Linked DNA regions of Homo sapiens. The protein of the gene in region 1 purifies or fractionates together with the protein of each later gene. This does not show direct contact. Each region holds a gene or a part of one and is shown in the gene's direction. Other genes may lie near its edges.

The links.
Region 2: the proteins of CHST9 (region 1) and LRP6 purify together in Homo sapiens (affinity purification with mass spectrometry; 4 studies listed by BioGRID and IntAct, with this or other methods). This does not show direct contact.
Region 3: the proteins of CHST9 (region 1) and CANX purify together in Homo sapiens (affinity purification with mass spectrometry; 4 studies listed by BioGRID and IntAct, with this or other methods). This does not show direct contact.

What each region holds. Positions count from the first base shown.
Region 1 is NC_000018.10:26,905,853-26,909,335, reverse strand, and holds the end of CHST9 (carbohydrate sulfotransferase 9), read left to right. Parts: 3' UTR 1-2,855; downstream 2,856-3,483. UniProt on the Homo sapiens protein: Catalyzes the transfer of sulfate to position 4 of non-reducing N-acetylgalactosamine (GalNAc) residues in both N-glycans and O-glycans.
Region 2 is NC_000012.12:12,120,545-12,124,199, reverse strand, and holds part of LRP6 (low-density lipoprotein receptor-related protein 6 isoform b precursor), read left to right. Parts: intron 1-871; coding exon of another isoform or gene 872-921; exon of another isoform or gene 922-1,018; intron 1,019-1,594; coding exon of another isoform or gene 1,595-1,685; exon of another isoform or gene 1,686-1,708; intron 1,709-2,779; coding exon 2,780-3,074; 3' UTR 3,075-3,655. UniProt on the Homo sapiens protein: Component of the Wnt-Fzd-LRP5-LRP6 complex that triggers beta-catenin signaling through inducing aggregation of receptor-ligand complexes into ribosome-sized signalosomes.
Region 3 is NC_000005.10:179,715,840-179,719,494, forward strand, and holds part of CANX (calnexin isoform d precursor), read left to right. Parts: intron 1-59; coding exon of another isoform or gene 60-161; intron 162-265; coding exon 266-455; intron 456-3,655. UniProt on the Homo sapiens protein: Calcium-binding protein that interacts with newly synthesized monoglucosylated glycoproteins in the endoplasmic reticulum. It may act in assisting protein assembly and/or in the retention within the ER of unassembled protein subunits.

The sequences.
Region 1 (3,483 bases):
GGGTACTTCTCGTGTGTGTGTGAATTTTTTAAGTCCTGGTTGATTATAAATGATAATACAACCTGCTCTTTTCATTCTGTCACTGTGTTGAAAAGTTAACAACTCTCAGCTCAGAGAATTGTCAGTGGGTATTGGTACCAAAGTCCTCTGTGGGATTTTGACCAGCACTGAAGCAGAAACTTGGCGTCCGAAGTCTGCCAAGTGCAAGAACTAGAGCTGAAATGATGAAGTGAGGGACGGGGACAGCACTGGGCACTGCCCAAACTTTTTGAAAGCTTTCAGAATGAAATGGGGAAATGGAAACTTTCCTCTGTTTGAAATATAAAAGACAAATGTGTACTGAAGGCAATTTTGGCAACTCAACTTCACATTGAACAAGTGAAGACAATATGAGTTTCTCCAATAAAAACTAAAAAGCTGTTTTCAAATTGACCTAAGATGATTGAAAATGGAAAATATTTGCTATTTGGTTATTAGTTTGAGAGCAAGTGCCCCAGGAAATATTTTGCAATTTAACTTAAATGGTTATAATGTATATTTTCTTGAACTTCATTAAAGGATTTGTCTCTTTTTGCCTTTCTATTAGGTTGAACCATATGACATTGCCAACATTTGACTGACTCTGACATATAAACACAGCCCTTTCATGTGGGTCCACTAACAGTTCTGCTGCTACCTACCCAATTCTAACCACATTGGCTCTCCTCAGAACTATTGGAAATAGCCTCTGAATAGAAGTCCTGCCTTTTTTATTTATTTATTTAAAAATTACTTCTTTTCTCTTTGCATTTTTCTTCTTTTGATATTTTCAATTGTGGCAAAATCCACATAACATAAAATTTTATCACCTTATCATTTTTTGGTATCCTTTTAATGAATATTTTCCTATCCCTCCCCATCTTACCTATTTTTTTTTTTGAGACAGAGTTTCACTCTTGTCGCCCAGGCTGCAGTGCAGTGGCACCATCTCTGCTCACTGCAACCTCCACGTCCTGGGTTCAAGCTATTCTCCTGTCTCAGCCTCCCGAGTAGCTGGGACTACAGGTGCACAGCACCACGCCCAGCTAATTTTTGTATTTTTAGTAGAGATTGGGTTTCACCACATTGGCCAGGATGGTCTCGATCTCTTGACCTCGTGACCCATCCGCCACAGCCTCCCAAAGTGCTGGGATTACAGGCATGAGCCACCATGCCTTGCCACCATTTTTTAAGTGTACAGTTCAGCAGCATTTAGTGTAGTTGTGCAAGCATCACCACTATCCCATCACATACCTTCCTTCCTTGTGAAAAATGGATACTCTGCACCTATTAAACAACTTCACTTTTTGCCCTCCCCCAGTTCTGGCAACCATCATTCTACCTTTTGTCTCTATGAATTTGATAACTTAAAATACCTCATATAAATGGAATCATACAGCATGTGTCTTTTTGTGACTGGCGTATTTCTCTTAGCATAATGTCCTCAAGGTTCATCCATATTGAAGGACGTACCAGAATTTTTTTCTTTTCAAGGCTGAATTGTATTCCATTCTCATTGCCTGGCCTCAATCTCTCAAGACTATAACCCATTCCCAGCTTAATCACCTGATAGCTGCATCAAACCCACTATTATCCAGCCACATGGAACCATTACATTCTCTGAAAACACCTCTTGCTTTTTCCCCTATTTTGCTCACACTATTACACGACCTGAAGTGTCCTTTATTCCTCTTTAAGGACCTCCACATGGGTGCCCCCTCCAAGAGTTGCCTGCCCCGCATGACCATCCCACATTCAGCTCGCTCTACCCTCTCTGCTTGGGGACTCTCTTCCACTCTCCTTGCTTTAGCTCCACCATTAGGCTGATGGTTCCGAAATCTTTTTCTAGGCTATGTTTCTATCACGAACTTTGATTCAGATTCCCAGTTTCTTGTGGGACTGCTTCATCTAGATGTCTCACTGGAGCTTCCAACTCAACATGACCAAAGCTGAACTCATCACCTAACCCCCAAACCTGCTTTCTCCTTATTTGGTGGCAACACCATCCATCTACTCCATCTTCTGAGTTAGGAACCTAGAAGTCAACCCCGATTTCTCCCTAAGCTGACTCCTCACAGCCACAGAATTCAGAAAGCCCATTAACTTCACTGCCTGACTTTTTCTCAAGCTTCTCCTCTCCTCCCATCCATTCTGCTAATATCTAAGTTCAGACTCTCACCTTCTCCTGTCTACAACTCTACGATAATCTTGAACTTCTCTCCCACTCTCATTTCCCTCAATGCCATCCTCCATACAGCTGCCCTTGTAATCACTTTAAAATGCAAATCCAATTCCAGTTCTGTTTCCCACTATACATTCTATATCCTGCATGATCCCAATTCTTCTCCAGGCATATTTCTGGCCATTTTCTGCCTCCTGGCTTAATCTCCAACAGCCTAGAATGGACATAATACCCTAACATTGGATAGTTTTCTTCCTCCTGGGTCTACTCAGCTTGTCCCTCTATTAGGGCACCCACCTACCCCCCTTCACCTCCCCAACACTTCCTAATCCCTAAACTAAGCTCAGGGAGGCATTTGTCATCTCTGCCTGGCTCAGATGAGATGCTCTGCCCTGAGTACTATGAGAGATTGGGAAGCAGGATTCTATGTAGGATGGTTAGGAGCCTGGGGCTTGTCATGAGTAAGAACTGGGTTTGAATTCCGTATCCTCAACTTTCAAATGTTGGGACCTCTGAAATTGCTTTAACTTCTCTCAGTGCCAGTTTTCTCATCTGAAAACTGAGGATAGAATACCTACCTAGTAAGGGGGGTATGGGAAATGCATGTAAAGTATTTAATAAGTGCTCAATAAAATAAAACCATTGATTTATCTCATCATAGCCTGTGCATATTTCTATCTCTGTGCTTAAAGAATTCTAATGATTTATGTATGTGCCTTGCTTAGTAGAATCAATTCCTTGAAGTTAAAGTTTGTGTCTTGTTCATCCTTGTAACCCCAGAGAAGATACTATTTAAGTATTTGTTGAAGAAATGAATGCAGGAACAAATCCAGCACAGGTGTTCCTGCATTCATATGGCACTCTGTCTTTCCCTTAAGGTACATTCTGACTTGTATTATAATACTACAAAAATGTGTCTTATCTTTCCTGTCAGACTCTAAGTTATCTGAGGTCAGGAATCACATCTTACCCAATAAATGTACATACATCAAATTAAATTTGAGGCTTTCAAATGTGGATTCTCGAATTAATGGTTTAGAATAGCAGGCTTCCTAGCCAAACATAGAAACAAATAAGTAAACTAAAAATCACTTTGTTCAATCATCTTTAACCCTTTTCTTTCCATTAGTGCTACACCCTGACCATGATGAACTTTTGTCTCCTCAAATAAGCTATGCTTTTCTCTGCCTCAGGGCTTTCTATGGGCTGCTCTCTGAGCCTGGAATACTGTCAAACAACCTAATACATCACTGTTTTCAGAAAGCCTTTCCTGGTCCACAGAT
Region 2 (3,655 bases), on another chromosome or scaffold:
GTTTCACCATGTTGGCCAGGCTGGTCTCGAACTCCTGATCTCAGGTGATCCGCCTGCCTTGGCCTCCCAAAGTGCTGGGATTACAGGTGTGAGCCACCACACCTGGCCTATACTTTTTTTTTTTTTTAAGAGAGTCACAAATGCTGGCTTTTATAATAATAAAATACAGCCTCAGGCTTTGGCAGTATTCTAAGGAGGAATTACCCACCAAAGTGACTGGTTTCAAAATAGTTTGATATTCTAAGAATGAAATATTGGGATAAGATTGGTTCATAGAATTGAGAGTTTAAAACAGCAACATACTCAGAGCACAGAATTTTAGAAAAGTTGAGAGAAATGTAAGTTCAGCCATTGCTTGCATATGCTATTACAATTTGGAGTGAAAGATTTCTCATGTAGTTGCATGGAATAAAGAAAGATTGAAATAAATAAAGTGTATTTGTAAGCCAAAAAAGAGAAAATTATTCCTTTTTGCTAATTTATGAGTCTATAAAGTGTGTTGAGCAGGTCAAGTACTGTTGTGTCAGCTTCCACTTCTATGTTCCTTGAAAGGCCAACAGACCATCAGTAGCTTGAGAGTTTCTATCTACACACTGAAGTGCCCAGGGTTCATGGGCATCCCTCAAGTGCCTGTTATCTTCTAGATAATCTTTTCTATCTTCTATCCTCTCTAGATAATCTTCTATTATCTTTCCTAGCATTTCAGTCAAATTGGCCTGATACGACCTCACCCATGTGTAGAAATGAAGTGGAAACCACTTAAAGTATCTCACTCAGAATTCTCATTTCAGCTTAGATAAGACTGAAATAGCCTTGGCTGTGAACTGATTGTTTTAATGATATGTTGTAATGTTGCTTTCCCTGCCACAAGTTTCTTCTTCTAGGAAGCCAAAACAGAAAAAGCAGAAGCCTGAAAATTGAGAAAGGAGAAAGATACAAAATTTTATTTTTTAAAAGTAATGTCCTTAATTCAAATTGACTAAGGCACTCATCAGAATAAACACGATTGCATAAAAAACTATTCTTGCTTAACTATTTTCCGTATAAGCCCAATTTCTGTTTCCTCTGAGTCAAAACTTACATCATTTGTTGAGATTTTGGTTTAAACTGGGACATGAAAAAATTTTATTAATTCAGTTTGTTTTCTTTTTTTTTTTTCATGAAAATAGAAGTATTTGGACTTTTAAATGTTGACCTTAGAAATTTCACCAAGGATTGACACCTGATTGGACAAAGAGTTAAACAAAACAAACTGTGACATCATGTCAGTATTGATAGTAAAAGCCTTTGAGAACTCACTCAGTGGGTCATATAACTTTTGGTCTCTGGCAGCCTTGCACCCTTTTTATTTTTATTTTTATTTTTTTTGAGACAGGGTCTTGCTCTGTCACCCAGGCTGGAGTGCAGGGGCACAATCACAGCTTACTGCAGTCTCCACCTCCCGGGCTCAAGCAGTCCTCCTGCTTCAGCCACCCAAGTAGCTGGGACTACAGGTGTGTGTCACCACGCCTGGCTAGCTTTTTTTTATTTTTTGTAGAGACGGGGTCTTGCTATGGTGCCCAGGCTGGTTTCTTTCTTTCTTTCTTTTTTAAAGACTAATCAAATGCAGTAGTAAGAAGGGGAGACAGAGTAGAACAAGGAATTTGATCTGTGACTGTGAACAATCTGGCAGCCATTTCTTTTGAAGCAAGCCAAGTGATATCAAATGGTTTGTATCCTGGGTTCCTGGGATATATTACCTGGTGGTGCTCTGTATCACTAGGTGTTTTATGAATCGTTGTATCAGTTTTTAACTTGGTTTTCCCCTTCTCTTGTAGTCACTTTGATGAGAAAGCTTATGAAAAAATCTTTGGGATAAATTTAAGATCAGCTTTACCATATTTAGAATAAACAGGTATAAGAAGTTAAAAATAGAAGTAGGAATGACAGAAAAGCCAGAACTTAGGTCAGATCTTATTTTCACTAGTATGTTTCTCTCTTTCCAATGCCTTTTTCTTTAGTTAGCAGTGCTACAAACCTAACAACTGTATGTCACTTGTAAAGATAAACAAGTGTAAGAAATAAACTAGGCCTCTGAAATATACATTAGAAAATTCACTGACCCTTTATGGGCATTTAAATTTTATCATTTTGATGTTTAAAGCTGCTCTTATGAGAGGTACTTACCTATACACAGGGAATGAAAACCGTTTCCCCCAATCACAGCAATTTCCCTTTGCTAAGATAACAACAATGGAATAGTTATGCCCCTGAGGCTGTCTACCAAAATCCAGCCTGGACTGTACAGAAATTGTACAGAATTGTACAGAAGAAAGAAATGAAGACTTCAGATGTCATTAAATTAATTATTCATCAGGTTAATTTTGGAGTAAAGAATGTTGAGGGAATGCTGACATGTTTGAGTAGTGTAAAATATGTAAAAACCCATTCTTCCCATGGGCTATGAAACTGCAGAACAAATTTGAATAGTCATTTTTTATTCTGTGATACAGTTTAACTTGAAGATGTAAGAGCACAACCAGAGGCTAGATTGAATTCACCTCTGCATTCCCATCCTGTTCATTTTCACTTGCCACTTTCTTATTTGCAAATAAGAAAGTACCTGCTATTTTCCTCAGCGAATCTGCCATTGAAAATTGCCTCTTGGTCTGTGTAAATTTAAATTGCAGTAGCTTATTGTTTTCATAGGGTAGTTGACATCTAATACCTCTATTCTGAGAGGGGAAATCATTTTTTTTTGTAAAACTAACTGCTTCTCTTTATTTTCTCCCTATACCAGCTACAGGCCATATAGCTACCGGCACTTTGCACCCCCCACCACACCCTGCAGCACAGATGTTTGTGACAGTGACTATGCTCCTAGTCGGAGAATGACCTCAGTGGCAACAGCCAAGGGCTATACCAGTGACTTGAACTATGATTCAGAACCTGTGCCCCCACCTCCCACACCCCGAAGCCAATACTTGTCAGCAGAGGAGAACTATGAAAGCTGCCCACCTTCTCCATACACAGAGAGGAGCTATTCTCATCACCTCTACCCACCGCCACCCTCTCCCTGTACAGACTCCTCCTGAGGAGGGGCCCTCCTCCTCTGACTGCCTCCAACGTAAAAATGTAAATATAAATTTGGTTGAGATCTGGAGGGGGGGAGGGAGCTATTAGAGAAGGATGAGGCAGACCATGTACAGTTAAAATTATAAAATGGGGTAGGGAATACTGGAGATATTTGTACAGAAGAAAAGGATATTTATATATTTTCTTAAAACAGCAGATTTGCTGCTTGTGCCATAAAAGTTTGTATAAAAAAAATTTGTACTAAAAGTTTTATTTTTGCAAACTAAATACACAAAGCATGCCTTAAACCCAGTGAAGCAACTGAGTACAAAGGAAACAGGAATAATAAAGGCATCACTGACCAGGAATATCTGGGCTTTATTGATACCAAAAATAAAAAAGAGGAAGAAGAAAAATTAAGTCCATCTCAGAGCAGCAAACCATAGATACATGGATGTAGCCAGATAGCCTTCAGTTAACTAACATTTGAGGGCCAACAAGTAAGAAATGATGAAAGGAAAAAAATGCAATTAATACTAACCTTGGACGAAGGGCTTTGTTTTCTCTAGGAATCCAACAGTGCTAGTGAGGAAAGTAGATA
Region 3 (3,655 bases), on another chromosome or scaffold:
GTCTATAAGTCAAGTCTTTGGTGTTAAAGATTTTAACTATCATTTGCTGTAATTCTTAGAAAGCCGAGGGACTAATCATTTATGTTTCGTGCATAAGGAAATGGGCGTTAGCTTCCCCAAGACCCCAGGAGCCAGGCATTGTTCTTACCCCAAAGCCTCAGGTCAGACTTCTGCTGCTTCACGTTAGAAGTCATGATCTTTTGTATTATGGTAAAGGGAGCTTGGAAAATTAAGTACTTTTAATTCCATTTAATGTTTCTTTCAGTCTTGAATCCAGATAATAGTTTTGAAATACTGGTTGACCAATCTGTGGTGAATAGTGGAAATCTGCTCAATGACATGACTCCTCCTGTAAATCCTTCACGTGAAATTGAGGACCCAGAAGACCGGAAGCCCGAGGATTGGGATGAAAGACCAAAAATCCCAGATCCAGAAGCTGTCAAGCCAGATGACTGGTGAGTCTTGGGGAACTGTCTTCAAGTGTAAGGGAGCATTTCATATATTCCATGTGGCTTGAACAACGAAATGTTGGTTGAGTAAGCTCTGATAATTTCAGTAATCCATGATGCAGTCTAATCTGTAGGGAAAATATAGAGTACTATAGCTGGAAAGGGGCCATAGTGTAATCATCTGGATTGACTCACCATTTTACAAGCCACAGAATGCCACACTTGATAAGAGTTTGTCTGTGGTGACACTGTTGGTTTGTGGCAGAATCTCAGGTCCTTTAACCTGGCTACTCCAGGGCTTCTGTGAACTCACATTTAAAGCCAAAGTTCTGAAATGCTAAATTTTAATTTGAAAAATAACCTTTTTCCTATTTAAACAACAGTCAATTCTCTGCTGTGGGTTGGGTGGTAGAATACAAAGCCACAAGGACACCACCATCTGCCTACACAGAGCTTGAAGTCCAGTTGTGAGGCATGATGTTGGCATGTGGTATCGTAAGGGTTCATGAGAAGGTGCCACAGGAGACCAGAGCACCAGGTGTACCTAAACTAGGCATGGTTTCTTGGAGCAAGGCAAATCAGATTGAGACTTGGCAGTGAGGTGAGAATTAAGGAGTTGGTGAATATGGGAAGGGGTGTTTCTGATTGAAGAATGTCGTATGCAGAAGTAGAGGAGCAGCAATGAGCTTGACATGCGAGGGAGAAATTACATGGCCTTTTATGTAGGGTGCACATTGAAGAGTGAGGAGAAATGAAGATAGCTGGGGCTGTATTCTTGTATATGGCTGTCTTTGAACTTGCAACTTCACACAGTGACTCCAGAAATGTCAGAAAGTGAACAAAGAAATTCTTACCCTTTGTAAAATATCCTCCTATGCTTAGCAATTACATTCTAGATTATCTTTTTCCTCCTTGAAAGGTAAGATACATATAACTGAACTTTTGTACTGCACTAGTATAAATGCCAAGTTTACTTGTATATTTGGTGTATATTAGATTTGGACTTAGCCTTGTTCAGTATTATATTCCTTAACTAGCTTTATCACCTAAGAAGGCCCCTGTACCCATTAAGCGGCCACTCCCTGTTTCCTCCCCCAACTCCCAGCAACCACTAACCTGCTTTCTGCCTCTCTACATTTGTCCACTTTGTATATTTCATATAAAATGGAATCATACAGTATGTGGCTTTCTCTGTCCAGTTTCTTTCATTTAGCACAGTGTTTTCCAGGTTTATCTGTGTTGAAGCATGTATCAGTACTGCATTCCTTTTTATGATTGAATAAATTCTACTGTTTTGATAATGCCACATTTTATTTATCCATCCTTTGGTGGACATTTAGGTTGTTTGCTCCTTTTTGTCTGTGATTATGAATAATGCTGCTATGAATGTTCATGTACTGGTTTTTACATAAATATGTTTTTTCTTTTCTTGCTTTTTTTTTTTTGAGATGGAGTGTAGCTCTGTCGCCCAGGCTGGAGTGCAGTGGCGCCATCACGGCTCACTGCAACCTCTGTCTCCCGAGTTCAAGTGATTCTCCCGCCCTAGCCTCCCAAGTAGCTGGGATCACAAGCGCATGCCACCACACCCAGCTAATTTTTGTATTTTTAGTAGACACGGGGTTTTACCATGTTGGTCAGGCTGATCTCGATCTCCTGACCTCAGGTGATCTACCCGCCTCAGCCTCCCAAAGTGCTGGGATTGCAGGCGTGAGCCACCACACCTGGCCTCTTTTCTTTAGACATGATCTCTGTGTTGCCCAGGTGGGAGTACAGTGGTACGGTCACGGCTCACTGCAGCTTCCACTTTCTGGGGTCAAGCGATCCTCTCCCGCCTTAGCTTCTCAAGTAGCTGGGACTGCAGGTATGCACGCCTGGCTAATTTTTATGGGTTTTTTGTTTGTTTGTTGAGACAGAGTCTCGTTTTGTCACCCAGGCTGGAGTGCAGTGGCACGATCTCGTCTCATTGCAACCTCTGCCTCCCGGGTTCAAACGATTCTCGTGCCTCAGCATCCCAAGTAGCTGGGACTACAAGCGTGCACCACTGCACTCGTGCCTCACCCTCCAAGTAGCTGGGACTACAAGCGCGCACTACTACAAAAAATTCTTGTATTTTTAGTAGAGATGGGATTTCACCATGTTGGCCAGGATGGTCTCAAAATTCTGATGTCAAGTGATCTACCAGCCTCAGCCTCCCAAAGTGCTGGGATTACAGGCGTGTGCCACCGTGCCTGGCTGTGCATGTTTTTTCTTTTTTTTTGAGACGGAGCTTCGCTCTTGTCGCCCAGGCTGGAGTGTAGTGGCGTGATCTTGGCTCACCACAACCTCTGCCTCCCGGTTTCAAGTGATTCTCCTGCCTCAGCCTCCTGAGTAGCTGGGATTACAGGCATGTGCCACCACGCCCAGCTAATTTTGTATTTTTAGTAGAGATGGGGTTTCTCCATGTTGGTCAGGCTGGTCTCAAACTCCCGACCTCAGGTGATCTGCCCACCTTGGCCTCCCAAAGTGCTAGGATTACAGGCATGAGCCACTACACCTGGCTTAATTTTTGTATTTTTTGGTAGAGACAGGGTGTCGTCATATTGGTCAGGCCGGTCTTGAACTCCTGTCCTCAGGTGATCCACCCGCCTTGGCCTCCCAAAGTGCTGGGATTACAGGTGTGAGCCACCGCACCTGGCCTTGTGTATTTTTTTTTTTTTACTAGAGACTGGGTTTCACCTTGTTGCCCAGGCTGGTGTGGCCTCAAGTGATCCTCCTGCCTTGGCCTCCCAAAGTGCTGAGATTACAGGCATGAGCCACTCTGTCTAGCTATAGATATATATTTTCATTTCTCTTGGGTATATATACCTAAAAGTGGAATTGCTGGGTCATGTGGTAACTAACTTTTTGAGAAACTGCCAAACTGTTTTCCAAATGAGCAGTACCATTTTACTTTCCCACCAGCAGTGTATGAGGGTTTCAGTTTCTCTGCGTTCTTTCCAGCATTTGTTTTTATGAGTCTTTTTTATTAGAGCCAACTTGGTACTAAGTGGTATCGTTTTGATTTGCCATTTCCCTGATGGCTAATGATGTTAAGCATCTTTTCGTGTGCTTATTGTATGTTCATATTGTATATTTTTACATTCGTATGTCTTCTTTGGAGAAATGTCTATTAAAATCATTTGCCCATTTTTAAATTGGGTTGTCTTTATATTATTGAGTTGTAAAGA